Linked DNA regions of Homo sapiens: region 2 is linked to region 1. Evidence: fine-mapped expression QTL. A gene starts in region 1. The other region holds a variant in brackets. All regions are shown on one strand. Distances are between the middles of the regions. Region 1 holds the start of WDR49 (WD repeat domain 49). Region 2 overlaps WDR49 (WD repeat domain 49).

Region 1 (16,314 bases):
TCATATTGTTTCAGACGATGGCAAGAGTTAATCTTGAAAATTACAAAACCAAAATGTGTTGAGTAAATTGAGATCCATTTTCTCTGACAGCATTTGGCCTAGGCAATGATTGCAACAGCTCCATCTGCATTTTGTAAGATGTCTTCTTTGTGAGTACACTTGCAACAACTTGATGTAGGAGTGCACTTCCGATATTAATTTGATGACTGCTGCTCCTGCTGTAGACAAATAGAGGCCCTTGGTCTTCACGGCTTTCAATCAGAGGCACCATGCTCAGGAGGCACACTATGTTCTGTGAGAAATATTTATTGTGCCAGTATTCTTTCTTGGGACTATAGCTTTCAATCTTTCAAAGTGCGTTTTGTTTCAGAACTTTGATTTTTACAAGTGTAAAATTCCTTTCTATTGCCCTTTTTCCCTTTTATTTCTTTGTTTTCCTAGACAGAATTTCCTAAAGTAAACAAAGGTGAAATGGTAGCATTTTTCATAGAAATATGGATGTTTCTGATTTTTTTTGTGGTTAAGTAGAGGTTTTGCCCAGAAAAAAAAGAGTATGAAACAGATTAAAACATATATATTTGATGCCAATCCATTCCCCTTTCTGTGATCTCCTTTTTGTTGGTTAAAACATTCATTCAATATTTATTTGGTGCCTACTATGTGTCAAGCACTGTGCTAGGTGTTCAGTATTGTAGGTATATTATTACAATATAATGATTGTATTTATTTCTATCTTATATTAGTTTAATAATAATAAACTTCAACAACATAGATTTCTATCCATAAACTTTTTTTCCTGTCTTCCCATATAAAAAAATGTATTAGTTTCCATGGGCTGCCATAACAAAATACCACTAACTCAGTGGCTTAAATAACAGAAATTATTGTCTTGTTTCTAGAGACAAGAAGTTGACATAAAGGCATTGGCAGGGCCATATTCCCTATGAAGGCACTAGGAAAGGACCTATTCCAGGCTTCACTTACAGCTTCTGATAGTTCTTTGTCTTGTGACAGCAAACCCCAGTCTTTACATGGCTTTCCCTATGTGTTTGTGTATGTGTGTGTGTTTATAGACAATTTCTTATTTTTATAAGGACACCAGTCATATTGGATTAGAGCCCACACTACTCTAGTATAACCTAATCTTAACTAATTACATCTCCAATGACCCTATTCCAAATAAGGTCACATTCTGTGGTACTCGGGTAGCCCCAGTGGGGACTTCAACATATTAATTCTGGGGGCACACAGTTCAAGCCATAACACCCATTCAGATGTCACCAATTCCAAAGCTATTTTTACTCCATTTACCATGCCTCCTCAACCATATATAATTAAGCAGTCTTTTCCTTAACATGCATACCATTTCATCTACACCCTTTTTTACCTATCTGATTCATATGGATGGCTTATGTCATTTTCTAGACTTTATGCTCCTTAATATTAAGACCCATAACTGATAGCTATTGGGTATCACCAGGGTAGTGCCCTACACATGTTAAGTCACATAAACATATAAAACGAATGAATGACCCAACCAAAAAATAAATATTTACATAGCCATTTCTGGCTAGAAAATGTCTCTATACATGATTTCATTTGAGCCTCAAAGTAATTATTTGCACTGTACATGTAGGAATCATTATCTTCACTTAGGACTGTGGAAACTGACGCCCAATGAGGGTAAATTTTAGAGTCACATGGACATGGTGGAGGCTGCACCAAAATTCAGGTCTCCTGACTCTAAATTTAGAATTACTGTTTCATTGTATTTTATTCCCTTCAGAGATACTCTTATCGCTACCTTATACCTCTGCCACCCCAGTTAGTGGTCAGTGCTTACCCAAAGTACTGTAACTGCCCACAGTTTCCCCATATGAGGCAACTTATCTGAGAAACTTCTAGTCTTTGCCCTGACATGTCTCCCCTTCTCTCTCTTTATCTCTCTCCTTCTCTCTGTCTCTCTCTGTGTCTCTGTCTCCGTGTGTGCACGTGTGTTTATATGTATATATATCTCTTCCTTTGGGGTTAAGCCATTCAGTGAGACCAAATTAAATTAAAATCCACTTTCCTTCTAGAATAGAGTGTTTAATGTTTTAGGAACAAAACATCTGATTCTGGGGATTCAGGCACTCAGACAGTCTAAGAGGGTCACATTATGATAGACAGTAGTTACACTGCTTTGAATATCATTTCTGTTGTTATTAAAAAAAACAGATTCAGACAGTGCCGAACAGACCAGGCCCTCTTAGGGAAGATGTCTATAGTTGACATTAACTCTGACTAATCATAAGGAAGAAAGCATTTTTTCAAAATGATAAAACCACACATCTACTAACTCATACAAATGTGTGCGCGCACACAATCATTGCATTTAATAACTAACATTGAAGTATTGATATAGCGTTGCTCTCTGGAATAGATTTAGACATAAGACCTTCCTAAACACAATGAAAATGATTACAGAATCTCAGCTTTAATGTGAAACATCATGATATAGATAATTTTGCTTCATTCTGTTTTACAATTCTAATATTCCAATCTCTCTGTGAACTCCTACCTTATTTTCCCAAGGTTGCAGGAAATTTACCTTCTTCCAACTGTGTAATAATATTAATGTTAATTCATGTGCATAATGTTTTAAAATTTACATAGAGTTTTCACTGTATTTTATCTTTTTAACCTTAAAATGATTCTATGAGATAAACAATTCTGCTATCTTCATTTTGAGAAATGACTCAACCTGCCCAAGATGATAGGGCTGAAAATGAGAGAAACAAGACTTGAACCTGGTATTCTGACTCCAAATTTTAAGCCCATTTGACTTTATTTCCTAGTATGGGCTTTCTTATTTCTTTACTTTTTGCACGTTTTAGCTCCTGAACTGGGTTAGAATTTATTGTGGTGTTTAGCAGTCTACCCTGCACAGGGCTTTATACTATGGAGAAACTTGGGATTTGAACTCCAGCTTTTCTACTTCTTGCTGGATGATCCTAACACGTCATTTGCCCTGCCTAAGCCTCAGTTTCTTCAGCTAAAAATGATGACAATAATAGTGCCCATATCATAGGATTTCCAGGAAAATTAAAGGAACTAATCTATGTAATGTTCTTAAAGTGCATAACGTCATTCTATTGGCATTGCTACATTATAGAATTTGCAAGTTGTATGAAGTTGGATGAGATATTTTTTGTTTTAGTTTCCTCATCTGTCAAAAAAAGAGAGAAAACATTAGGTATCTTGCAGAGATATCACAAGAATTAAGTAAAATAACATTTGTGAAAGTGCTTAACACAATGTTTGGCATATACTAGGAGCTCAATAATTGTTCATTTCCCACCTAACTGCTTTCTGTCTTTCTTCAAGGAGACAATCAGTAAATGCTTACTGGATTATCAGTGACTCCTTTCATGCAATGATTTTTTGACTGTTTTCTAGTGGCTCTAAACATGAATGCGAGTGTTCGATATCTAGGTGGCTTTGACACACTGTTCTAAAGCCCCAGGTAGAATAGCAGGCAGTTTTCTCAGAGAGGCAATGGAAAGGAATTTAGTAAGCTAGTTCAGAGCAATTGCCGAGTAAGTGGCTCCCTTATGAAGGCCCCACTGATGACTGAGAGACCCACGTGTGACTGAAAACAAGGATGCTGGATTTCAAAGAGAAGATATGCTAAAGCAAAGAGGGACAAAAGTGATTCGTTGTTGGAAATACTCATCAGAATTTGCATAAATAGATTGACCTTCTGACTACTTTTTTTTTTTTTGAGACAGCCTCACTCTGTTGCCAGGCTGGAGTGCAATGACGCGATCTTGGCTCACTGCAACTTCAGCCTCCCGGGTTCAAGCAATTCTCCTGCCTCAGCCTCCTGAGTAGCTGGGATTACAGGTGTGTGCTACAATGCCCGGCTATTTTTTGTATTTTTGTAGAGACAGGGTTTCACCATGTTGGCCAGGCTGGTCTTGAACTCCTGACCTCAAGTGATCCACCTGCCTTGGCCTCCCAAAGTGCTGGGATTACAGGCGTGAGTCACTGTGCCCAGCCATGAATACTTTTAAGTACTGATCTCAATATTAAATTCAGCGGATCCTAAGTGTCTACTGATAAAGTCTTAGTGGGCTTTTTTCAAGTAAGTTAGAACATTTAAGTCAATAATTTTCTCAGTTTTACAATCTATTTCCGCATCTATTTTTAAATTTAGCTACCGCTGCTTGCTTCTTTATGATATGTAATTTACTGCAAAATTATATATTTAGTTGTTTTAGGATATCATTATTTCAATAATTCTGTGTTCAAATACTTGAAAAGTTTGAGAAATGCTGTTATGAAAATACAGTTTTGTCTGAGTACAGTGACTCATGCCTATAATCCCAGCTCTTTGGGAGGCTGAGGCAGCGGGATGGCTTAAGCTCAGTAATTTGAGATTAGCCTGGGCAACATAGGAAGACCCCGTTTCTACACAAAAGTTTTAAAATTAGCCAGGCATGGTGACACATTCCTGTAATCACAGCTACTTGGGAGGCTGAGGTGGAAGGGCCTGTGAAGTTGATGCTGAAGTGAGCTGTGATCAGAGCACTGCACGCCAGCCTGGGTGACAAGGCAAAACTCTGTCTCAAAAAAAAAAAAAAAAAAAAAAGGAAAGAAAGAAAATGATTTAAAAATTACAGTGTTGTTAATTTAACAATGGAAACTACTTTCTCAAAAGATAGGATTAATTGAAAGCCAACATTTACTGTGACATGTGTCTCTGAGCAATGGTGGGCATAGAGATGTATCTCATTTATCTTTGCTTTTCCAGTGTTTAGAAGCAGCACCTGGGACAGAGTAAAGCTTCAACACATATTTGTACATTACACAGAAATTGTATGAAGAAAATGCATTTTTTCAAAAAGCACTTGATAATTTTAAGTGGCTTGAAGATACTGTCTCAAATTTCATTTCTGTCACTAATTTTCTTTCTCTCTTTTTCTTAATGACCTTTGAGTCATATGATTTTCTTTTTTTCACAGAATTCTGCTTCTCCTTCTGATTCAATGCCGCCTATTCCCAGGACCCTTGCTTGATAACTCAAGGTTATAGGTGAATGTCTCCTTTACCCACCTTGTTTACAAATGAGCATACATTGCTGTAGTGTCGAGAAGTTTATGCAGAACACCATGTTGGGCAATGTAAGGCTGCAGCATTAGTGAGGTATCATCCCTGTTCTTAGGAGTTAATCTAATGGGAGAGAGAGATACACAGACAACTAATTACATTACAAAGCAGGAAGAAACAGTGCTGTGTTTAAAGTCTGAAAAAAATGCTGTGGTTGCAGAGTGAAAGGAGTAATTAATTCTAACTGGGAGGATAAGGAACAAAGAAGGAAAGAAACTAATATCTGTTGAGGGCTTAAAAGGTGCCAAGGGCAGGGCCAGAGCTTTCCCCAGGCTTTGAGAGGAGGTTCCTTTACACAGAGCCAGCGGGTGTCTGGGGCTTTGCTGGAAGGCATGAGGTCAAGAGGCAAGAAGATGATGGGAAAAACATCCTTTCTTTCTCTTCCTGTAGCAGTGAGGACTTGAGAAGGAGCAGTGAGGACTTGAGAAGAACAAGGAGCAGTGAGGACCTGAGAAGGCTGGGCCGGAAATGAGGTTCCTAAGGTAAAACTGATTTCAGTTGAAGTGAGGAGGTGGAGGGAGAATTTAGGCAAAGATTAACGAGTAAGAACAGGCTTCAGTGTGAATGGTGGGCAAAGAAAGAAAGAGGAGTTAGAAGAAAAGGAAAAGGGAGATCTATATGTTGGTGGGGATAAATTGTGGGGGGGGAGGAGAATGGGGCTAATGATCATAACTGCCTTGTAGGGCATGTTATGCTCAGACATGTGTCTCTGAGCAATGGTGGGCATAGAGATGTATCTCATTTGTCTTTATTATTAGCTGAACCAGTTTTATCATTAGATTTATTATATTATGGTATACTGTGTTTTTCTCACATTTTCAATAAGTTGGAAGCTTTTTTGGACCATTTCTATTTTATATACATAGAAACTAAGACAAAAAGAATATAAGGAATGGATTCCTATCCTTTAAGAATAAAACATTTTCTCTGTGTAAAACATACAATTCCAGAATTTAATGCTCTTTTCTTTGGCTAATCATATTGTTTCATAATATGTATCCTACTTTGTAGAAAATATAATGGTAAAAAGTAGTCCTTAAATAATATAAAAGGAAGGTCTATATTTATGTCAGTGGCAATAAATTGTGGGGGAAGGAGAGAGCAGGGATTTGGGTGTGGACTGTGAATTGTGATAAAGACACAGATGGGTGTGTCTATTCGGTGGGGAGAATTATTCAGTCCCAAAGTGTCAAAGGCCAATGGATGTATCAGCTTACTCTGCCCTCTTGGTGCTTAGGGCTCCACTATGCTGGCAGGTGTTGTCTGATCCCTACAGGAGAAGGGGGCAAGTGTCAATCTGCTTTTTGGCCTTCTAAAGGTGATTAAACTGTCACCATCTTGATTTTCACAATATCATACTTGATTCATGGCAAGCAAGAGGGAAAATTTCACCAGTCAAGACACTAGTTATGGATTTTACAGTGCCGCAGGAATTTAACCTGAAAATTAACCACACAGTTACAGAGAAGGTTAGAGCCATTTAAGCCTTTATGATCAAGAATTATTTCTAATGTCATAATTTTATAGCAAGAAAACTGTGTCAATTGATTAACTTCTACTGTAATTTGTTAGCTGCTCATTATACTTTCCTGTTTTGACTAATGAAAACATTTAGGGCTGCAACTTTATGGAAGCTAAGTAGGCCAGGCATCTTGTCTGTCTTAGAATAATTAGAGAATTTTGCATTGTCAGCCAGTGGGATACCTACCTCTCGTGGTTCATCTTTACAGAATGTTTTTCCTATTTCTTCTCCCTTCCCTCATTAGTGTCTGCTACTGAACTAAGCCCAACTCTCTAGAATATCACTATAAAACATTTTACAAACATTTATGGGGCTGATCCAGCTGATTTAAAGTATTATTAACTTACTAACTAGGGTGATAAGAAGACAAATCGTGTTCCCATGTAAGATAACTTAGGGGAACTTGTAGTATTAGGGCTTAAAAATGTTTTCCTAACTTACAAGAAGGACTTATCGAAGAAAAGCAAATCTGGTAAATACACCCCCGTTCTGTGTGTGTGATACATATCAATACATATATACACATCTATAATGCCACTCTTTCCCTTTGAGCCTAGCTATGGCTTCAGAATGCTCTGAACACAGCACTGTGTTGGAACACTGAACACAAGAGGTTGGAATTGGCATTAAAGATGAGCTAGACGGATAATTGCCCTGACTAGACTGTAAAGCCCTTATGGCAGGCACCAGGTCACAATTCAGGACTTGACATATATTAGGCATATATATATATAGAGAGAGAGAGAGATAGAGAGAGAGAGAGAGACAGTGTCTATCTCTGTCACTCAGGCTGGAGGGCAGTGGCGTGATCTTGGCTCACTGCAACCTCCGCCTCCCAGGTTCAAGCGATTCTCCTGCCTCAGCCTCCCAAGTAGCTGGGATTACAGGCGCCTGCCACCATGCCCAGCTAATTTTTATATTTTTAGTAGAGACGGGGTTCCTCCATGTTGGCCAGGCTGGTCTTGAACTCCTGACCTCAAGTGATCTGCCTGTCTTGGCTTCCCAAAATATGGAATTACAGGCATGAGCCACCGTGCCCTGCCTATTAGGCTCTTAATAAATGTTTTTTTTGAAAGAATAATGAGAGATGGATGAAAAAATGAAAGCATGAATGAAACTTCATTTTTTTCTATAATGGGTACAGGAACTCCTACAGGATGCTCTTCTCTCTGTTCTGTACCATGCCTCTAGTGAACACCAGCTCAGAGAATGTTAGAGCCGGAAGAGACCCTAGAGAAGATGTAATGCCAACTTTTTAGTTTACAGAAGTGAAAATAAAGTGCAACGGGCACATCCATCTAAAGTGCAGTGATACAGTTGGGCAGTGTCCCCACCCAAATCTCACCTTGAATTGTAATAATCCTCACATGACAAGGGCGTGGCCAGGTGGAGATAATTGACTCAAGGGGGCGGTTTCCCCATACTGTTCTCCTGGTAGTGAATAAGTCTCATGAGATCTGATGGTTTTATAAATGGGAGTTACCCTGCACATGCTGTCTTGCCTACTGCCATGTAAGTCATGACTTTGCCCTCATTAGCTTTCTGTCATGATTTTGAGGCCTCCCCAGCCATGTGAAATTATGAGTCAATTAAACCTCTTTCCTTTATAAATTACCCAGTCTCAGGTATGTCTTCATTAGCAGTGTGAAAACAGACTAATACATGCAGTATCTGAAGTTTGGGAGCCATTCTGTTCTCTTCCGTATGTTACTATTTGTGTGACCTTTGGCATTTTCTTTGCTTTTTTTTTTTTTCTTTTTTGAGACAGGGTCTCATTCTGTTGCCCAGGCTGGAGTGCAGTGGCACAATCTTGGCTCACTGCAACCTCTGCCCCCCAGGTTCAAGGGATCCTTCTAACTCAGCCTCCCGAGTAGCTGGGATCACAGGTGTGCGCCACCATGCTCGGCTGATTATTTTTGTATTTTTACTAGATACAATGTCTCGTCATGTTGCCCAGGCTGCTCTCGAACTCCTGAGCTGAAGCCATCCACCTGCCTCAGCCTCCCAAAGTGCAGGGATTACAGGCGTGAGCCACCTTGCCCGGCTTTTTGCTTCTTTATCAGTAAAATGGGGATAATGATCACATCTGCCTTGTAGGATTGTTGTGAAGCTTAAACAAGACAATGAACATAAAGTTTTAGTGCCTGGCACATGGTTAATACTCAAAAAATGTTAATTTTTCTTCTTTTTCTCCTCCTTTTCATTATTATTAGCTGAACCAGTAATGACACTGCAAGCAATTTTATCATTAGATTTATCATATTATGTTATGCTGTGTTTTTTTATCACATTTTCAACAAGTTGGAAGCTTTTTTGAACCATCTCTATTTTATATACATAGAAACTAAGACAAAAAGAATATAAGAAACAGATTCCTTTTATATAAAAATAAAACATTTTCTGTGTATAAAACATAAAATTCCAGAATTTCATGCTTTTCTCTTTGACTAATCATATAGTTTCATAATATATATCCTATATAATGGTAAAAGTTGTCTTTAAATAATACAAGATGTCGTTTAATAAAAAATGAGTGGAATGAACTGTCCTTTTATTTCAAAAAAAACCATTTCAACATTTACATTATATATTTAAACTTTCAGTTGGAGAGGGGGAAGTGAAAGGGAAAGTTTTAGTTGGCTTTGTGTTGGTTGCCAGGAAACATACAAAAGGATCAGAACAGATGAAACAAACAACTCCACATTGCTGGGAAGGTGGCATTCAGAGTCAAGTACTTCATTGGTAGGGAAACTCTGCAGCTTTGTCATCTAACTCTTCCAGACAAGAAAGTGGAATTGAAAACTACAACATGTTAATGGAAGCAAGGTTAGTTAAAGAGATTTTTGGGAAGGTGCTTTTCTAATGCATTTAAAATGAGGATTGGAAGTTGTTTTCTGTGTCAGTTACTATAAATGTGGGGAAAGCTTTACACATTTTTAATCAAGCCAGGTTAAACAGAGTATAAGGAAGGGGTAAAAATACCATTTTAAAAGCATTCAACTGTAAATTTTGAAAATAAACTCTAGAATCAAATAAGTGAGAGGGTTGAGGGCTTTCATTTCCTACCTCAGCTTGAACATTTTGCCTCCTGATCGTATGCCTTGAAAGGTTTGTACTTTCATTTTGGAATTCTGTTGCTAAGTTGAGTTTCTTTTCAAAGGCACCTGTTGAAGGAAAAAGAAGATCCATCCTTATAGAAATAGTTGAAGGCAACTGAGAAAAGGTGAAGCCATTATGAGTTGCCAGAAAGCTGTACTTGAGTTAAACATAGGGTCACAGCTTGGGCCAAAGAGTCCTGAGAGAACAGAAGGTGTAACTGCATTTGAAGACTATGGCACAGGCCTGCTTGAAAACCAACTCAGCGTGGGTGACTTTGTAAAAATACAGAAGGCCTTTGAGGTAAGTGTGAAGCTTATTGACCAGATAGTTTGAGTTGTTCATGAAGGAGCCTAGAATGAAACACAGAGATATTTTTCTTTAAGCATTAAAAAAATACACTTAATTGTTATAGCAGAGAATTAAAAATAATTGGTTAGGCCTGGATTTAACACAATGTGCTTGGTAGCTTTGCCCCTCAGTTCTTTGGGCCAAATAATATTCTTTAGTTTGAAATTGCTTCACTGAATTTCATTACTATCAAGAAAGAACTATTTATTGTTGGAAAAAATTTTTTTCTTAGAGATCAACATATTTTGGGGAAACAAAAAATTATGGCTGTGAGTGAAGAAAGCCAGATCTCTAAGGTGACCTCCAGGAATAATTGTTCTTGCATTTAATACGGACATAGAACTCAGCAAATGCAAATATGCATACCCAGTTTGCAAAAAATTTCCTCCTGTCTCACTCACCCTAAGTGGCACAGCTCCTTTTCTAAGCTGATTCTGGCACTTTGTTGTCCCAAGATCCCTTATGAGGGACGAGTCTCCCACTCATTTTGTAAATCCTGGAACAATGCCAATAAAAACAAAATTAGAATTTTTCATTTTAACTCTGCATAAAAAATAAACCATAGGAATTTAACTGTAAATGAATAATTTTCTTCTCTCTTAGTCAATGAATTTTGAATTCTGCAGCTATGCATAATGAACAGCATACATCAAAGTGGTTTTTAGTTTCAAATATGGGTAGAAAGAAGTGCTCTTCCATGACGTAGAATTTAGGTAGTCATGAGCCTCCAACATTTCTACTATATTATGTTTACTAAAGTATGATCTAGGGCCTTCTTAAGATTGTCCGTGGGTGCTTGGAGTATCCATACTAATTTGAAATAGAAAATATTTTGGAATACCACCTGGAAATTAATAAAATATAATAAAAGCTCACAATATATTAGCCTGTAATAGGCACACATTTTTATCTTTGGATATCCACAAAAGAATATAACAAGTTGGGTTCCACCTGTATTGATAAATTAATGTCCCAATAGTATCAATCATTTCTTTATAATAGAACTTATCATATTTAGTAGCAAGACATGCTCTGTCCTACACTTTTCTCATTTCAACCTTCATATATTTGCTATTCAACCAACCTCATTTGTCTGAAAGATTTCACTGCTGCTGCTCATGCCCAGTGCCCCAAGTAAATTTAGCATATTTTGATAGACATAGCAAACATTTTGACAGCTTGAGGACATTCAGTAAAACATAACAGCAGATTATGACAGCTTTGACTCTATAGTGAACAGAAATGTGGCAGTTTTGTTCCGGTGCTAAGAACACAAAGAATTTGAATGCTAGGGCCTATTAGGAGAGTCTACATTATAAAGTTGATGTGTTGGTGAAACTGCTTCAGAAGGTTAGAGGTGGGTGTTCTTTCCAAACTGCAGATTAGTCTTGAATGAACCCAAGTGAAACTGGAAAATTCAACCTCAAGTTTTAATTTATTTCTATTTTATGTTAAATATTTCAAAGGCCAGACCACTTATTTTGACATTACCGGTTGGAAAAGCAGGAACTAATGGACCAAAGAGGAGAAGAGAAGGTAATTCGGAGCTTGTATGAACATAGACAGTTTTTCTAAAAAAGAAATTGAGCTTTGCAGGTGTACCTTCAAAAAAAAAAAATGAAGTTCATCCATTTTAGCAGACTCAACAGCCAGAGAATGGAATAATCCCATGGCACATGTGCAGCCAGTACTAAAAGTTAGACCTTTGAGCCAACATGATTTCCAAACACAGCACGGACACCTAAAGAAGAATGATGCACTAGATGACTTTAATGGTATCCAGTCCATCTGTCATGAGTTTTAGGCCCAGAGGCCACAGGTATAGATTGCTGTAAAAGGATAAAATGCCCTCAATAGCATTCCTGCAACTTTGAACTCTAAAGGCAGTGATTTGTGGTCCAGTTACTAAGGACATGCTCTTAGAAATGTCAAGATTCTGGCACCAGATTCCTTTATATCTTCATTTTTTTTTTCTTACACAGATTGCTTGTTTGGGGCTGAAGAGTTGTCAGATATTAGGTGAAGTCCATCTCCTTAAATAGCAGTGGCAATTCTTAAGTGAAAAAACAGGAAGTTGGGTCTTTGAATTATGCAGTAAATGTTTTACGTGTATTTCCGAATAAAATATCACATACCATACTAATCGTAGTAGTAACATTTAGGAATAAAGCAATTAGTGCTTATGTTCATTGTGCAGTTGTATAAATGGATCAGAATCATGCAGTGTTTCAGATCTAGGAGTCAGATTTCCTGAGCTTAAATCCCGGCTTTGCTACTTACAATGTGACTCTGTGCAAATACTTAATCTCTCTGGGCCTCAGTTTCCTTTATTTCTAACATGAGGATAACAGAGCTTTCATGAAGATTAGAGGAGGTACTATCTGGAAAGCACTTTAAAAAGTGCATGCCACAGAGAGTAAGTGCTCAATTAACATTAGATAATTGAGCTAATTATCTCATTTAGTAAGTAGAAGTTAAACCATGTGACCTCTGACAGTGCCTTGATTCTAATTCATACTTTTCTTAAAGGAAATTAAACTTCAAGTGACACTTGCTGCTATGCGTCTTCATTCCTATTAGTTGTGGAAGGAAGTGGTTAGAGCTGCAAAGACATAAATTCACATAGAAGAGTCAAAAGCATAATTGTTCTATCTCTCATTTCATATTTTCTTAGCAGGCAAAAATTCTAATTGACGTCTTGATTCTTTTCTTTGGAACAAATAAGTTACCTGGGTAGAAGCACAGAAAAGTAACTTGTGGATTTCATTTTCCTTTAAGTGATGGTGTCAAAAGAGCCATATATCAGCCTGAAGGGAGAGAAACTTGCATTATTCATAGAATCGTAAAATGGTTGTTACTCAAACTTCCCTGTAGCACTTACAATACTTAGAGAAATGACATGGTCTCTGGATGCTCATATTATTTTGATGTCAACCATATTTTACATTTTCTTTGAAACTCCAAAAGCCAACTATTGTTTGAGGAAGAGTAGCTGTGGTTTGCTGATTTTATAGGAGTGGTGAGAAGTAAAAATTTTGGTCTAAGGAAAATGGAACTTTGGGAAAGCCATGGAGCTTGATATTTATTGAGCTTCTCCTGAGAGTCTGGCTATGTAGGTTCTGAGTGTTTCTTTTTTTACATTCTCCATTGTTGATCTCTGTATGTCAATGATGGTTTAACATTGGACCTTGATCCTAGATTAATTGCTGCCCGTTTGGTCTGAGACCATAGTTTGCCCTGTGCTCCTGGGCTCTCCAGGTTAGGTCCTGAACTGCCTTTATCAGCAACTGTGTCTATATCTTCTCCTGGCACACCTGTTCTGGCCTGACTGTAAGCTGAGAGCTGGAGGCTGGCTTTACCCTGTCAGCTCCATGCTATCATTTGCCCAAGCCCTACTAAATCTTTAGCTTTAACTATACCTAGAAGCCACATGTAAAATGTGAGGTATTTATCCTTAAAGTAGGAAGGGCCAAATAGTTTTAGTGTAAGAAAGGCACAGTAAAAATCCTAGCAAGACTGCCCCAGAGACTGTGTGGTGAGAATTCTTAAAACAAATCTGTCTTGGAGGTGAATGAGATCTAAACACAATGCACTTATTCAAACTGAATCTCAAAAGACTGGAGAAGTTCAGTAGTCAATTCTGCAAGTTCTAGAATTGTGCTTAACGGGTAATACAATTACATTTAAAGAATTTTGATATTCTCATCCTTGATTATCTTTATAAAATTCCCAAAACACCTCAACAGTATCTTGGGGATTTTAGAAAGCATTCTACAGCAGGGTCTATGAACTGTGCTTGTTTGCTTCAAGACAAAGCTGAGGATGTTGATGTCCTGCCAGGCAAGCTAGGCTCTACAGGAATATAGAAAGTCAGATTGGGCCTTTTCTTACCTTTTTTTTAACTTGTCCTTCTTTCTAAACTGTCAAGCTTCCTCCAAATTTATGGAGGACCCATCCTTCTCTAGGCCTTCTCATTGCCCATTGTACCTTCACTACTAAGGTACCCAAATGAACAGGTCTTCCTAGACGTGTCTCATACTCCAAAACTATTCTTATATCTTCCTTCTTGCCTTTCTACCCAGGCACCACCATCCCAAACACATAAATAAAATTACTCATTTTTGTTTCACTCCCTTTCCCCAGAACCTTTAGATGTTCTTATCTCTGATAAAATGAGATGGTCCATAAAGTTCATTTAAAATTTTTTCTTAGATAAAACTGTTAAGGTATAAAGTTGGATATTATGCTATCCAACAATGCTGAGAATTAGAAAATATTTTTTATAGTGTATGCAAACTGTGTAAAATATATAATATCTGCAACATGACAGAGGTATTATTTCCTGTTCACATAAAGTAAAAAGCAGGTATTTCTAATGGGTAAGCAGTTGCAAGCAAGGATTCAGGTCTCAGGCTGTCCCCACCTTCCGCCTTCTACACAAGCCATACATCAGCTGGTAGCAGTGGAGAGCACTAGGGAATGTTTTCTGTGGTCCAGCTCACATCCCATTGGCCAGCACTCAGTCATATGGCTACAGGTAACTTCAAGTTACTTCAAGTCGTATGGCAAGTAGGGACAGCTGTGTGCCCAGATAATGATCTCACCCATGGTCCTCTTAGAATTTTGTGGGAGGAAAATTTCCTTCTCTCCTAATGAACCAGCATGCTTCAGTTTGTAAATTATGGAGACCTTTGTGTCTAATTGTATTTTGTGTTCTGTCTTAGCTGCCAGGAAGTTCAAAGCTAAATTTAGTGTTCAACTCTTACAACTATGCTTAACTTAGGTTTTCTGGGACAATAATCTGCTATTTTATTATATAATTCTTGTTCTTTTATCTTTGTTTTAATAGTCGGTCCTATTGCCTATGTATCTTCTGTTGTAACTGAACTAAAATTCTTTCTGGAAATCAGTGTAGGTAAAAATGATGAATAAAAATTGAATACCTTTCAAGTATAGTAAGATTTTATAAAGCACTTATGTTGGCATCATGTTATTTGATCCTTTACCAGCCTGAAACATAGGCACGGCATAAATTTTTACTTCCCATTTACAAATAAGGAGATGAAGGACTAAAAATATTCAATTGAATTCTCCCATGGGCAGAGCCAGAACTCAGAGGCAGATTGTCAACTTTGGAGTCCATATATGGCATGATTTCCACTGGCCACAAGATAACCTTCCTTTGGCATGTTGCTCTAAGGAACATGAATCCAACAGGATAAAGATTTCCTAAACAAAATGCATGTTAAGTTAATAGTGCACAGGCCCTGTGCTCTGCTAACTTGGAACTAACGCATAATCAGCAAATAATCAACAACTGCTACAATGAAATCAAGGTAGAGAAAGGGTGGAAGAATGAAAAGAAGATAATAACCAATTGCTTTTTTGAAAAATATTTTTTTCTTTCTAAAGGCATCTCAGTGGAGACTTGTGAGAAGGTAAACAGGTGAAGCTTAGTCTCACCTGTATATAGTAAAAAGTGCATTCTGCAGCCTCAGTCAATTCATCATCTGCTGAACAAAGACAGCAGGTCATACCATTTCTCACGCATTGCTCTTAGTGCAATCAAAATACCTATTTTTAATGGCAGCAGAAAACATTAAGGTGATAGCATGAAGACAAATCCAATACTACTGCAGTTGGCACAATTAGAAATGGCAGAGGAATTCTGTGGTGGTTTTATCTGATTTGTTAAAATTCATGAATAATGCTAGCAAATGGCGTCATCACCAAAACTCAAGGAAGTGAAGTTGTATCTCACTACAAATGAAAAATTTGCCTTCCAAATCCTGCTGCCTTTGTGCTGATTTTTGTGACAAGTTCTAACAGCTTCCTGCCTTTTCAAACTCTCTGTGTACTTTTACAACAGGCACTTACAAAAATTAATCTGGATCAGTGTGTGATGAAGAGTGCCTTTAGTAAACAAGTGGTTTAACCTTGAGTGTTGGCCAAAACTGGAGAAGTGAAGACAACCAAGAAAAGCTTGTTACAGAGGAGGGAGGGAGAAAGAAAGCAAAGATGTCTACTGCTGTTCATGTGTAGTGCATCAGCTTAGCCAGACTTGTGAACTAAGGGCACTGCTACTTTTGAAATTTTCCTGAGAGTTAAACAAGAAAAATGAATAAAAGAATGAAAGAACCATTATTTGTGGCATTTTGGTTTCAATTTGTCACATTTTGCCAAGTATAACGTAT
Region 2 (16,314 bases), 120 kb after region 1:
TGTGAATGATGTTAAGAGGTCAGAAGAGGAACTATTTCTTTTAATCCTAGTTATTAAGGAATTCTACCTGAATAAGATGGGCCTTAGAGAGTTGGTGTGTGAATAGGTAGATGTGGGTCTGTGTGTAAAAAGAAATTCATAGAGGCATGAAAAAGTATACCATGAATGAAAACAAAACCGACAGAAATATAAGAGGTACCTAGAGAAGACTAAGAATATTGTTTGGGTTGGACAAGAAGGTGTACTTCAGAAACTTAGCTCCTAACAATTCAAAACAGCTACTGCAAGCAAAAAATAAATTTAAAACTTTGAATTCTTTTTTTGAAATTCAGGCAAACTTTGCGTTCTCTTGCATTAATTCATCTATCTTTATTTTAATAGAAAATTATTCTTCCTTAAACTTTTTGAGCAAAATTAACACTTAAGAAGGTGTACCATATTTACTCTATGGCTTCCAGTGCCTCTCTCAAATACTTAATTGGATATTCATATATAACTGAAAAGCAAGGATAGAAGAATAGAGGGAAATAATTCTGAAAACATAGATTAGATCTATGTATTATTGGGTCTTAAATAACAGAGCTCCACATTTGAATTTTATCATATACTAAACGAAAAAACTAGCAAAGGCTTTCTAATGGGGCATTAGCCTTATCTTTTATCATGTTGTTTTCTCCATCCAGAGTGTTTTCATCTTGCAAATCCTACCCATATTTTATGGTCCAGTTCAAATATCAGTGTTCAACTCAGCCTTCTTTGATTTCTATGCTGGCCTTTCATGGCAGTTGATCAGTAATGCCTTAGCACTTACCACATTTTACCTTGAATTTTAGTCATTTTATGCTGACGGCTCTGTACCCTGCATCACTATGAACAAAGTGACTTCCACATGGCAAATAAGAAATTCTTATAGAATAAATGAAAATGCCCCAGAGTAGAATAATTAATCTAGTAGCCAGATGAAGAATGTGCCAGAGATGGGTAGACTAGAAGCAGTAAAATTTGTCAGTACGCTGTTACAATAAGTCAACCATGAGGTAGTTAGCACAGAACTAGGAAACTGTCATTGACTGTTTGAAGTAAAATAGTAAGAAACGAATATGTAACATATTGCAGAGATATAATCTAAGTATTTGATTTGACTGGGGAAGAGAAAGACACCCAAAGAGGCTGGAATGTTGGTCTATTAACCATATTTGGGAATTGCAGACAGAGGGCTGGTATGGAGGGAAGATGTCAAATTTGGATTTTTGACATGTTGAGATCTTTTGCAGATGGAAGCATTATACAGAACTGTCAACTGGCAAATGGAAACTATTTCTAGCAAAGATTATGAATGAAGAGAATTTAAGAGCCATTTGTATAGCAGTGACATTGGAACTCATGGTGATATATGAAATCTCTAAGCCAGTTTGAGTGGATAGAGAGAAAGGGAGGAATGAAGATAAGGAATGTTCCATTGTGTATATATACCACATGTTAAAAAGGGTGAGAGAAAGAAGGGAATAGAAAATAAAGAGTGGGGAAAGAAAGATCAGGAGGCAGGAAGAGAAGCAGAACATACTGGAAACTCTGAGGCTGAGGAGTAACACTGGTAGGACAACTAAGAGACCTTTAGAGTGGTGGGAATAAAAGATTTCAGGAAGGTGAAGAGAGAATGATGGTGAAAGACCCCATAACTTTGGTTGCAAATGCTCACATGAGATCTAGATGGCTCTAGAAGGAACAAGAGGCTTAGTATAGGCTGATGGCCAGAGCTCGGATCATCAAGTGAAAACAGGGTGGTATTAATGCCCCAACAATGGAATCTTTACACTCCTCCCTTCCCCACCAGGCACAAGGCATTTCATTCTTTGCCCATCCTGTCCTGTCCTCAAATTTATCAGCAGTGCCAGAAGATACTGACCTCTCTAATACTGTTCTTTCTGTTCAAAATGTATCTGTCCTATGTCCTACTTCTTTGGGGTGGCATTTTCCAAGTATGTTCCACAAATTGTAGTTCTTCAAGATGCTGTAGACTCCAAGAGAATGGATTCTGTGATCAGGTAAGTCTTGAAAATGCCACAAGGAGTGCTAAATATCCTGAGAAAATTGATGAAAAAAAACCCTTATTGACTTTGTTTGAAGTACAAAACATTATTTGTTCATAGGCCTGCCCCCTCTTTTAATTGTTATTGCTATAAAACTCGGTGATTTCATAATACCCATGTGGGGAAACTTTGCTTTAGGGTCGTGGTGATGGATAATTAATCTGATAAATTGTTACATGGTTTGTTGTTAACGATTATGAAAGGATAATTAACCTTCTATTGTCAAAAATTTATAATTTACCAGATAATTTAATGAGGTAATAAAAATGTTTAGTGTGGGAAACTCAGTATTATGGTTGTCAAGTGGGGATAAATTTTGGGCAGCATAGTCTTTTAAAAGTCTTGGATCACATCATTCAAGTGGATAGTGGCTACTCAATGTCTACATCAATTTTAGATCCACAGCTAAATTCTATATCCTTTTTGCTAGGGCTATTACTGTGTTTCGACCCCAAAACTTCAATCAATTTTTCATCCAGCCTGAAGAATGGAAAGGAGGTATACAGCACCATGATGACATCTTGTGTGCTGCGTTTTTACCTCCACAAACTCTTGTTACGGGTAAATTGAACTTTCACTTGACAATCATTGGTGAAGTTTGATTTGTTTTGGTTTGTTTTGGCTCACTCACCTTTAGAAAAGCTTTTTCTCAGTTGTTTTATATATATATATATGTATATGTATGTGTGTGTGTGTGTATATATATATATATATATATGTGTGTGTATATATATATATATATATGTATTTTGAGATGGGGTCTTACTCTGTTGCCCAGGCTAGAGTGCAGTGGCCAGATCTCAGCTGATTGTAACCTCCACCTGCCAGGTTCAAGTGATCCTCCCACCTCAGCCTCCTGAGTAGCTGGGACCACAGGCACGCCCCACCATGCCTGGCCAGTTTTTTGTATTTTTAGTAGAGATGGGTTTTTGCCATGTTGTCCAGGCTGATCTCAAACTCCTGAGCTCAAGCAATTCACCTGCATCAGCCTCCCAAAGTGCTGGGATTACAGGCGTGAGCCACTGTGCCCGGCCATATATTTCTTTTTAAATTTATGATTGACACATAATATTAATAATTGTACATATTTATGAGGCACAACATGATGTTTCAATACATGTATAAATTGTGCAATGATCAGATCATGGTAATTAGCATATTAATAGCCTTACACATATATCATATCTTAGTGATGAGAACATTAAAAAATCTTTTTTCTAGCTATTTTGAAGTATACAATACATTATTGTTAACTCTAGTCATCCTACTATGCAATAGAACACCAAAACTCATTCCTCCCATATAACTAGCTTTTTACCCATTGACCAATCTCTCACCCCTCCTGTCTCCCCTCCCCATCCTCTGGTATCCACTGTTCTACTCTGCTTTTATGAGAATAACTTTTTAGATTCCACAACTAAGTGATATGATGTGATATTTGTCTTTATATGCCTGGCTTATTTCACCTAACATAATGTCCACCAGGTTCATTCATGTTGCTGCAAATGACAAGCTTTTATTCTTTTTATGGCTGAATACTATTCCAGTGTGTATATATACCACATTTTCTTTATTCATTTATTCATTGATGGACATTTAAGTTGATTTTATATCTTGGCTTTTGTGAATAATGCTGCAAAAAACATAAGGGTGTGGTGCAGATATCTCTTCCACATGCTGATTTCATTTCCTTACCCAGTAGTGGAATTTCTGGATCATATGGTAGTTCTATTTTCAATTCCTCCATATCATTTTCCATAAAGGCTATACTAATTTACATTCCCACCAGCCATATGTAAGTGTTTCCTCTGCCCCATATCTTCACCAATACTTTTATCTTTTGATTTTTTGATAGGAGCCATTCTGACTGGAATGAAGTGATGTCTCACTCACTTAGGTTGTTTTGATTTGTATTTCCCTGATAATCAGTGATGTTGAACATTTTTTCGTATGTCTGTTGGCCATTTGTGTGTCTTCTTTTGAGAAATGTTTATTCAGGTCTTTTGTCCATTTTTAAATCAGGTTTTCTTTGTTGCAGAGTTGTTTGATTTTGTTATATATTTTGGATATTAACCCCTTATACTATCAGATGTAAAGTTTGCAACTATCTTCTCCCATTTTGTAGGTTGTCTCTTTGCTTTGTTGATGGTTTCCTTTGAGCATGAATAGATTTTTGAAGAAGCAGCACTTGCTCTTCTTTATCCTTATTTCTAGGGAAATATATTGGTAGTTCTGATCATCAGCTCCTGTGCCTGGCTGTCTGATTTCCCCTCACGGCTCTACCAATTGCCACAACTTGATAATGAGCAAGTTATTTAAACTCTAAATCATAATTTTGTCTGGCTGATAATAATATATCTATATTTTGGTTTATAGTTCAGATTATCTGTGCAAGCATTTAACACAGTGCTCAGCACACAATAAGCTCATCCATAAATATTAGCTTTTATTTGTATTGTCCATTTTCCAGGAGCAGCTTTAGGGCTGTCAGGTACGAATCACACGTTGGTGGCACTTAGATGTTTCATAATGTGAACATAGTAACTCTTTGGCATAATTTAGCCCAGATAATGTTGATAAAAGTCTGTCCTCACAAAATGTCTACAAATCCAAGCTCTTAAAATGATTCATAGGCATGCTTTGATGTGGCATATTAAAGAGAATGAAAAATTGTTGTATCATTTCTGGCCAAAGAATGCAATTTATAGAGACAGATTGCACCATGAAATTTTCAAGTCCATATTTTGACAGCTGAATTTTTTTTATAGAACCAAAAATGTCATCAATTAAGAGGAATGAAAACTTACAGGAAAAGATCCAGGGTATCTATGAAGTGTTACAATATGAGGTTTACTGATCTATCTATATTTAAAGTTCCCCTGTTTTCAGGACTAATGAAATTACTTTCTAGTAAGGCCAACTCTGTAGGTAAATTAGCTTTATAGCCACTGGAAGGCCACCCCTGCAGGGAGGATCACATCCTGAAATGTGATGGGCACTGAAGTGTAAAATGGTGTGGTTGTTATTGTGAAAGTATTAGTAAATACCGTTGTATTGGTGGGTAGACAATCTCTTCACTCATTCTCCTCCCATCAATCCTATGTGGAAATATTTGGTCAGTCACTGCTAGTAAAGCATAGGAGAAGATGGATATTTCTATGGACAGCTGAACTCCATCCCCCTGGTTCAATTTGTGAGCTTCAGAGATTGTGCTTTCTTTTTCTTTTTTTTTGGATGGAGTGGAGTCTCACTCTGTCGCCCAGGCTGGAGTGCAATGGTGTAATCTCGGCTCACTGCAACCTCTGCCTCCAGGGTTCAAGTGATTCTGCTGCCTCAGCCTCCCTAGTAGCTGGGATTACAGGCACATGCCACCACACCCAGCTAAGTTTTTTTTTTTGTATCTTTAGTAGAGACGGGGTTTCACCATGTTGGCCAGGCTGGTCTCGAACTCCTGACCTCCTGATCTGCCCACCTCGGCCTCCCAAAGAGATTGCTCTTTCTAGGACAATACAGAGTTTGGTGTGCATTTCTCTCTCCTCTCCCCTAATCCCAAAAAAGTCACCATTTGTACATCCCACCCAAACTCTTCTGCTCTCCTTACCATAGACACTCTGCTCAGTGGGTAGCTGTCCTCACTGAGCCACTGAGAACAATGGTCTGGGCGTTGCTGCTTTGTTCCTCCACAGGACATGGTTGCTCAGACTTCACCTCACTTTGGGCTTTTGGGCTATTTGGGCTTTTCTCTGTTCTCTGTGAAGAGCAGTACTGAAGGACTTTCTGTAGGAAAAACTTCAGGATTGGAGAAGACAATATTCAATAAAGACAATATTCAGTATTCAATATAGGAGGGAAAGTATGAAGAGAAGACACACACACCCACCCACACACATACACACACAAGAAGGGATGTAGGAAACAGAAACATAGGAGGACTTGATTTACTTGCTTTTACCCAATAATAAAAAGTAGGATGGTAATTAACATTTTTTCCAGTACTTACAATATGCTCAGTGCTATTGTAAATACTTTCATTCTCTACAATAACCCTATGAGATAAATAAAATTATTAACTCTTTTTTATAGATGAGAAAATTGCAGCATCAAGCAGAGTTAAATAACATGCCCAAGGTCACACAGTAAGTGGGAGAACCAAGACTCAAGCTCCAGTTTTTTATTTGCAAAGCATCTGTTCTGAATGCTTTATTACCATAAAATAAAAGGAAACAACAGTAATTTCTACACACCCATGCTCAGGTTATACTGTGGGGATTGTAAGCTCTAGAGTTAAAACAAATACCAATTATTATTATTCATGTTTCTAAAAATATAGAGTGCCCACTATGTGCCATATTCTGTGGAAGATATGTTGCTAATAACTTCTTCTGATTGCTGTTGCTCATATTTTCTATCTTAATCTCCTGGCAATTTATATTCTCCATCCTGTCTTGTGTAGGGAGTTATGATGGAGAAATTGTTCTATGGAACAATAGCACAGAGAATGCTCACCATGTTCTTCACCCTGATTACCAGAGGTTGCTAAAGTCAAAATTAGGTAAGTGTGAGTTTGAAACGAAAATAACATGGCTAGTCAAATCACAGTAGGCCTGGTTGTTCATGCATGTGCCTGATGCGACTTGATCCTAAATTATAGATGATTGGCTATAAGCCTGAAGGATTAAGGATATCATTGTCTTGCCAAAGTAGCTAAAGAGAACCTTGAGATTTACTTGGCTTAGCACACTCTCCATGGCATGCCATTTCTTCTCTTTATGCTACATTGGTATTTCTGAACTACCGACAGCAGGGAGCAAGACTGTCATTTTTATTTAGTTTATTTTTTTTCAATAAACCTTGCCAAATTACCTAAGAGTGAACGTTAGATACCCTTTGGTAAAAAAATGGAAATTCATGTTCACTCGATAGGCTGTTCAGACTCAATCTAGAGCTTGTAATAAATATTATGCCACCTGGAAATCTTAAATTATTCCTTGCTTTAGAAGCCCATGAGGAACATTAGATGGGAGTATATTGTATTTTATGGGAGTTTAGCAGAGCACATGAATATTTTATACTTAAGTAAAATGTCTTGACAATTGCCTTTCACATTTTATTTCAGTTTCCTTAGATACTAAAGGTTTTTCTTTAGACTAATTTATTTTGGTAATGAAAATGTCATTCTTCATGGCCCAGTGAGGTTCTGTTGTCTCAACTGAATAAACTCATAGAGGCTGAATTGAACTTTAGGAATGGACTGATCATCAGATGCAGTTTTCTTTTTGGGTGAAAAGCTGAGAAGCTATTTTCTTAAGAGTAGGAAAACAAACTTAAGAGATTTAGGGGATACTTGGTTGCAAACACAAAGCTCTGACCTGCTTTATGTACTAAGAGCTAATCATTTTAAGATTCATCTGAACTTGCCATGAGGAGGTTGGAATTCTGCCTCTTCTTCTACACTGGGCTTTACAATACACAGAGAGATAATTAATGAGAAAAGTGAATAAATATCAAATTTCTAAAAGACATGAAAGGCATTGCAATAGATTTCTTATTTTGGAATTTTGAAAATACGTCTGTATAGATTTTTCATAACTATGGGCAGACTGTTCCTAGATTCTGAGACGAATATCCCCAGTGTTTACTAGTGTGGCCTGGAGATGATGTCATTAGATAATTGAAGTATGCTTAGAAATGTTTTCTCCAGAGTAACTCGCTAACAAATAGTATTGTTAAAAAGGCTCATTTAATTAAACATAAATAGTCTTTAGAACTCATGTTCATTATAATATTTCCAAGATTAATTTTAATGATTAATAAGTTGAAAATGCCACAGTATTGGAATTACGTTTGTCCTGGGCATATTAGGATCCCTAAGATGTTAGCATTGATGCCAATATTAAGTTCTTACTTAATTCATATCAAGTGAAAACAGAGCAAGTGTGTATGGAACATGAAAAACAAAAATAATGTCAAACAATTCTTCAAGTTGGGGTTGAGAAATAGCAGAAGGCTTGATAGATGTTGACTGGAAGTCTCTTGTGAGACTTGGAGTCAATGGATATAGTGATAGATGTGGGCCTGCTATTTCATAGGCATTAGTTTGAAAAGCAGATATTTTTCTTCATTAATATACTTGGCTTTGTCTCCCTCACAGATACAAAACCTCAAAAACTTCTCAGTGCTGGGAGAAGCCAACCCTCCCACCCCATGGCAGACCATTCTACCACGGGAGTCCGCAACTTTGAGATTGACACTGAGGGCAAAAATGCTGTTATGAGACTTTGCTTTCTTAAAGCAAGAAAAAACACTGCAGTGACAGGTAAAATATATATTTACATTTTACATATAGTTGGAAAGGGAGCAATAAAGAAAATCCAATCTATTTCTACTAGATCTTGTAGAATTTGACTGCACGTAGCTAACCAGTCAGTAGTGTGTCAAGTGAGGTCACAGACCATGGCAAAGGAAGTTGGAATTGAGGAGGATGGATTCAAGAGCAGGAGCCAGACTACATCCCACTACTAATTTATCCAGTGTTGTATATGTCAAGATCAAGATGGGAAAAATTCTGACAAATTATTGGATACGGGCAACAATCAGAATTGTTGTCCCAGACCTGTCATAAAGAGGTTTTAATACAGTAGGGGCACAGCAAGATGTATGCCGAAGTCAAAGCTTAAGTCCACATATAGCAGAAAAGTTGAGTCTGAGACTGACTATATGAGCACCTAATCAAAATAGGCTGGAAGAGAATAATGAGGAGCATGGATGTTAAGAACAGTAACAGAATTTGAAAGAATTGCTAATCCCAGGACAAGAGCTGCCTGCTCTCTTCTCTGTTCTCATCGTTTTGTTTTTTTTTTTAAGTATTGGTTATATCTTCTCCAGAGATGTATACTAACATTGATGCTATTTTATGATTTACTGTAGTTATATGATATTATGTAAGTGAAATAACCATTTGCTTAATTTTTTCCTTGTTGTCAGTGGCAATATTAGCATGGTGTTGATGCAGCCTGCATCTTTCCAAAATGAAAATCTGCCTTGGAGAATAATGTATATTTTTTTACCTTTCATCTAAAATAACAATCGTATCTTCAGGGTATATTTTTCTTAACATTAGGAACTAGACATATATGTATTATGTATTTGAAAAGGAAATGAACATATCTGAATTATGTTTATTGTTTCCCATATTTAATTTACAGATGAAAATCTGTATAATTTTCATATAAAATTTTTAATCATTAAGAATCAATAAAGGTATAGTTTAAAAACATTCTGGGATGTTTAGAATAAACTTTGAAACAATTAGATTCTAAAACTTTCCATTTTCTAGAACTTGCTTATACTCACAATATGAATTATTATCCTGAAATTACTCTCATTTCCTCAATACTAATTTTAATGTTATCAGTATTCCCAGATTGTTCTCACTGAAGCAGCTACATGTTATTATTTCTACCTTAAATAGATATGATTGTTTATTGGCAGTACATTTGTGAAGCAAACTGGAAGTCATCTACAGATTTATCAAATAATAGGAACCTTGCCACAAAAGAATAACTTAGGTAAAGTGCTTCAACAAAACCTATAAAAATGGAAAATGAAAAGGTTAGTTCTAGGCTCATTCACCAAAAAGGGGTTTTATAAGGGTTTACAATGAATTATTGATGAAAACATTTAAAGAAAGCTCATAAATAGAATTCTAAGCATGCTGCCAAACGGAGAAGTCAATAGCTATTCTGCTATCACTACATATTCCATCCAAATCTGTGCATATGGACTTTTACTTCATTGTATATGTCCAGTGGGTTATTAGGGAAGATTAATTTTATATAATGAGAATATTATCATAATGTTGGAATTAATATTTCATGTTTTATCTGAAGAAACAATTCTATCTAACTTTTAAATACCCCCAAAACATCAGAATAATGAATGAAGAAAAGGGAACTAAACGTAATGGAACACTTCAATATCCTATCTCATTTAATACTCAACACAAACCAGTGAGGTTATCATAGCGTCACCTCCATTTTATATTTGAGAAAATTAAAGTGGTGCTGGGAATTGATCTCAGGGCTACTCACCTCTTCAACATCACATGCTTTCCACAGGGAAAGCCACTGAAGAAGTTATTTCTGGCATTTGTTGTTCAGTTTTCTAGTTAGATTTTTCCCTTACATGTTAGGAGGAGCTAACCTGGTATCATGTGGAGGATCTGGTTATGTCAGATTTTGGGATATATATAAGAAGCAACTTCTGGCTGAATTTTTGGCTCATAGTGGAGTTGGATCGATTATTATGTCTACTGATAAGATGAATCGATACCTTACCACAGGAGATCTTGATGGATGGTTGAAAATCTGGAATATAGAGGTAAATTGAAAAACATTATCACATTACCTTTAAGATTTTTGGTGACCCTTTGTTGCAGGTAACTATGAATCAAGCCTTGTCTGTCTCCTAAACAAAGGAAAAAATGTATAGTCTAAGTGTTTTAAATAAAACATTTACAAGTTTCATGCAGAGACTTCTTTTAAATAATTAATGAGGAAAATCATGTTTTTCTCAATATTGACAACCTTCTGTTAAGTAAGTCATCCAATTTAGAAATGCAATATTGTTAGTAAAGCACTGCAGCATTATTTGAATGTAAATAATTAGGATACACCTTATTTTTAATGTATGTATGTATTTATTTATTTATTTTGAGACAGGATCTCCCTCTGTCACCTAGACTGGAGTGCAGTGGCATGATTATAGCTCTCTGCAACTTCAAACTCCTGGTTCCAGCCATCCTCCCACCTCAGCCTCCTGAGTAG[C/G]TAGGACTACAGGAGTGTTCCACTATGCCCAGCTAATTATTTTATTTTATTTTATTTTATTTTATTTTATTTTATTTATTTTACTTTTTGTAGAGACAGGGTCTCACTAGGTTGCCTGGGGTGAGGCTACACCTTATCTGCAATGAGATTGTAAATGTAATTTAAATACTAGAGGACTATTCCTTCATTTAACATTATTGTTACCCTGAGTTAGTTTGGGATTTTTTCTTTTTTATCACTGATTACCTGCTCAATTTTCTAATAATATTTGAACGTTGTATATGTGACCACCTGTATGTGGTAAAGTTCATCTCTATCAAATAATTGGCTTTACTATTTATATTTTTCTTTCCTTCCTCCTTCCCCACTAGTTCCTTTTTTTTATTTCCCAAGTAATCAGATAAGTTAGAAACCTTTTTTTAATGTAATTTCGTTTTCTAGCCTCTTTTATCATGAACTTTTCTTTTGCATTTGGATCATAGGTTATTGTTCCCAAGTTTGAAAATCGGCCTTTTTTTAAAAGTGTTATGTCATTGTAATCATTTCATATTTGAATTTTTTAGAGTTCTGGTATTTCTTTTCATTCAGGAGTACTGTCTTAACTCCAGTAAGAACAAAATCACCAAGGCCCCAACTCTGATAAGATCATTCCAACCTCATGAGGACCGAATAAGTTCCTTAGAGATGTGTGAGCCAGGTGGTCAGTTACTGATTATCTCCTCCTCTGCAGACTGCAGTATTTGTGTGACTGGTGTCTGCAATGCTCCTGTTTGGATCTTTGGTCAGGTAGAAATATTGCTTCTTTATTATTCTAGTATTTACTTGACATTTAGTATTAACTTGGGCTGATTTCTATTTGAATCTCATCAGCTGTTTAATGTTCATTAGTCATGAAAGAACTGACAACATTTCCGAAGCAGTAGCTCCAGGCGACTCTTGCCCTGTTTTCCATTAACCAAGACAGTTCCATCAAGTGGAAGACACCAGAGACATGGAAAGATGGGGGCTCTGTGCAGCTCAAAATATTCTAGGATTTCTGAGAAAAAATTCTCCTCTAGAATAAATTTCTTCAATTTCAACATTTAGTAAAAGTTCAACGTGGATAAAATGATCATGTAACTAAAAAGACAGGTGATTATGACTGTTAACTAAGAACGTAATAATCAAATGCAGAAAATTTTAGAAAAAAAAACCAATCATCCTATTCATTATCTGGTTTACTGCTGCCAAATAATAATAGTTAACATTTGCTGAGTTTTTCTTGTGTACGTGGGGTACTGTTCTAAGATGTTTTTCAAGAATTAACTCATTTAATCTTCACAATTGCTCAACTCAGGAGGGAGCAGCTCTCACAATTCCCATTTTACAGATAAGGAAACAGAGGCACAGAGAGTTTGAATAAATCACCTGAGCTCACAGAAGCTAATCGTGGTAGAGTTTTGTTTTTAACTCAAGTTGGGTCACTTCAGAGCTCACATTTTTAACCCCTTTCTCAAGATCTGACTTGCTCCTGCCTATGAAATGAAATGGAAATGGGAGTCATGAAAGAAAGGAAATATTTAGTCTCATATTTTCTGTTATTTTTTCCTTTTGCTTTCTTGGGAACTTTTCCTGTTCCATTTGTGCTTTTGCGGACAAAATATGTTTCACTGGTTTCAACCAGTACTATTCAAACCTGGTATAAGTTTAAGTGAAGCCTCAATATCTGTTTGGCCAGCTGATTTGGTTCTATTTAGGAGCCTCAGGTGCCAATCTTATGCCAGGAGAGTAGGCAATTCTTTTAGTGTTGGAAGACAAGGTTTGTTGTTGCTGTATTTGTAAAGTCAGTTTGATGAGGCCAACCTGTGTGGAAAGAATTCTAAGCACCCCTTTAGGATGCAGAGGGTGTTGGTAAATCAGAAAATCATCTGGGAGGTGGACCCACATTGGCTAGACGACAGTCTCAATGTAACACTCCGGAGCTGTAGCAATCTCTTGTATTTTGTAAATAAGACAAGCACTAGACTTTTCTCAGTCAGGAAAAAAAGCGGCTAAGTGGGAACTCATACAGGCTTGTGATGAGTGAGACAGGGTGGGACATGGCTGGCAGTCTGGACAGGAAAGAGGGTGGAAGCCTGCTTCAGGCCACTGAAGAAGCCAAAGCATTGCTGACAGAGGCTGTGGCAAGATGAGGTGGAGGTTTGAACAACAGGTAAAGAAACGAAACGTCATCAAGTGGGTGACCTAAGAAGTTCCTTAGACATCCGGGGTCGAACCAAGAAATAACACCGTTCTAGGTGTAGGTGCCATATAAAGTTCACCCACCAAACATAATCTGTAGCTAAATTTTATTTTAATTCAGAAATGTGTGCTTGTAAAACTGCTTATTTTTGTATTATTGATATTATTTGTTGTTTCTGTGAAGTCTTGCTTTTTTGAAGATGCAAAAAGCCCTCATGAGAATAATTTTATTTTTTCCCTTCTGTTCAAGACAGGAGAAGAGTCATCAGAGCTGGGTCAGTTTTACAAATTGAAGGCTAGCAAATCTGGGGAAAACGGTTTTCTAGTTCCTTCTGCTTGCACTACTTCTTTTTTTTAATTTTTATTTTTTAAAGGATTGACTTTTATCAAGCTGTCTTGAATATAAGTGCCATTAGTCCCAAGATGTAGAGCAAAGAGTGTGGGGAAGAAGAAACAGAAAGGAGGGGAAAGGGAAAGGAAAAGAGGGAAAGGAAAGAGAGAGGAGAAAAGGGAAGTTTTTTTTTGTTGTTTGTTTGTTTGTTTAACAAAAAAACAAAAATTAGAATCACTTTTATAACATAGCTATTGACCTTAGGCTGGTTTTCAGGTTAGATTTTTAAAAGTAAGTTGTATGGTATGTCTATTTCTAGAGTTGGAGAAATAGGAGTGAAGAGGATTTATTCATAAATGCATGTTTATCCCACGAAGCTGACAGGTGATTGTGGGATAAGAAGAAATTCAAATGATGCTTGAAATTCTTCAGTGCCCCACTTTGTGCACTAACTACTGTTGTGCTAGGCAGAATTTATGTACTGGCAACTCTCCTCATCTGATTGATTTGATGTCCAGTGACTTTGATTGTGTCTCTTCATCCAGTGAATAATTAAAATTTGATTTAGTTGCCCACATTTAAACAATAATAGATTTCATGTAAAGATTCAAGTTTCTCATTTCTCTTAAAAAAAGAGCAATCAGGCAAGAGAAAGAAATAAAGGGTATTCAAATATGCAGAGAGGAAGTCAAATTGTCTCTGTTTGCATACAACGTGATTGTATATTTAGAAAACCCCATTGTCTCAGCCCAAAAACTCCTTAAGTTGATAAAGAACTTCAGCAAAGTCTCAGGATACAAAATTAATGTGCAAAAATCACAAGCATTCCTGTACACCAATAATAGACAAGCAGAGAGCCCAATCATGAGCGAATTCCCATTCACAATAGCTACAAAGAAAATAAAATACCTAGGAATACAACTTACAAGGGACATGAAGGACCTCTTCAAGGAGAACTACAAATCGTTGCTCAAGGAAATCAGGGAGGACACAAACAAATGGAAAAACACTCCATGCTCATGAACAGGAAGAATCGATATCATGAAAATGGCCATACTGCCCAAAGTAATTTATAGATTCAATGCTATTCCCATCAAGCTACCATTGGCTTTCTTCACAGAACTGGAAAAAACTACTTTAAATTTTATATGGAACTGAAAAAGAGCCCATGTTGCCAATACAATCCTAAGCAAAAAGAACAAAGCTGGAGACATCATGCTACCTGACATCAAACTATACTACAAGGCTACAGTAACCAAAACAGCATGGTACTGGTACCAAAACAGATAAAGAGACCAATGGAATAGAACAGAGGCCTCATAAATAACACCACACACCTACAACCATCTGATCTTTGACAAACCTTACATAAACAAACAATGGGGAAATTATTCCCTATTTAATAAATGGTGCTGGGAAAACTGGCTAGCCATAAGCAGAATACAGAAATTGGACCCCTTTCTTATACCTTATACAAAAATTAACTCAAAATGGATTAAAGACTTAAATGTAAAACCTAAAACTATAAAAACCCTAGAAGAAAACCTAGGCAAAACCATACAGGACATAGGCATGGGCAAAGACATCATGACTAAAATACCAAAAGCAATTGCAGCAAAAGCTGAAGTTGACAAATGCAATCTAATTAAGCTAAAAAGCTTCTGCACAGCAAAAGAAAATATCATCAGGGTGAACAGGCAACCTACAGAATGGGAGAAAATTTTTGCAATCAATCAATCTATCTATCTGACAAAGGTCTAATATCCAGAATCTATGAGGAACTTAAACAAATGTACAAGAAAGAAACCAAACAACCTCATCGAAACGTGAGTGAAGGATATGAACAGACACTTCTCAAAAGAAGGTATTTATGTGGCCAAAAAACACTGAAAAAAAGCTCATTATCACTGGTCATTAGAGAAATGCATATCAAAACCATAATGAGATACCATCCCACATCAGTTAGAATGGCAATCATTAAAAAGTCTGGAAACAACAGATGCTGGTGAGGATGTGGAGAAATAGGAATGCTTTTACACTGTTGGTGAGAGTGCAAATTAGTTCAACCACTGTGGAAGACAGTGTGGCAACTCCTCAAGGATCTAGAACAAGAAATACCATTTGATTCAGGAATCCCATTACTGAATATATACTCAGTGGATTATAAATCATTCTACTATTAAATACACATGCACATGTATGTTTTTTGCAGCACTATTTACAATAGCAAAGACTTGGAACCAACCCAAATACCCATCAATGATAGACCAGAAAAAGAAAATGTGGCACATATAAACCATGGAATACTACGCAGCCATAAAACAGGATGAGTTCTTGTCTTTGCAAGGACATGGATGAAGCTGGAAACCATCATCCTCAGCAAACTAACACAGGAACAGAAAACCAAACACCACATGTTCTCACTCATAAGTGAGAGTTGAACAATTAGAACACATGGACACAGGGAGAGGAACATCACTCACCGGGGACTGTTGCGGGGTGGGGGAAAGGGGAGGTAGAGCATTAGGATAAATACCTAATGCATGTGGAGCTTAAAACTTAGATGATGGGTTGATAGGTGCAGCAAGCCACCATGGCACATGTATACCTATGTAACAAGCCTGAATGTTCAGCACATGTATCCCAGAACTTAAGGTGGAAAAAAAAAAAAAGAATGTATGTCATTCCTTAAGAGTAACTATGGCTTTTATGTAAAATGGGTTCTCTTTAATTCAGTATAGTCTCTGAATTTTTTTATTGCCTTAAAAACTGAGGGTGAGTTTTATTTACTATTTATTACCCATTTATTTTCTTGTATTAGGTTCAATTCATTCATTGATATTATTTG

The links.
Region 2: its variant is fine-mapped to the expression of WDR49 in nasal epithelium (TOPMed, PIP above 0.99).

The regions. Positions count from the first base shown.
Region 1 is chr3:167,647,019-167,663,332 of GRCh38, reverse strand. WDR49 (WD repeat domain 49) reads left to right here and starts at 9,391. Exons shown (of 19, transcript NM_001366157.1): 1 at 9,391-9,499; 2 at 9,834-10,072. The coding sequence starts at 9,908. RefSeq lists enhancers at 9,131-9,653, 9,654-10,177.
Region 2 is chr3:167,523,207-167,539,520 of GRCh38, reverse strand. WDR49 (WD repeat domain 49) reads left to right here. Exons shown (of 19, transcript NM_001366157.1): 11 at 2,521-2,651; 12 at 6,544-6,642; 13 at 8,242-8,406; 14 at 10,282-10,469; 15 at 11,504-11,701. Among named protein-coding and RNA genes, the nearest start is that of SERPINI2, 57 kb to the right of the region's middle. The variant C/G (reference allele first, on the strand shown) is at 10,916.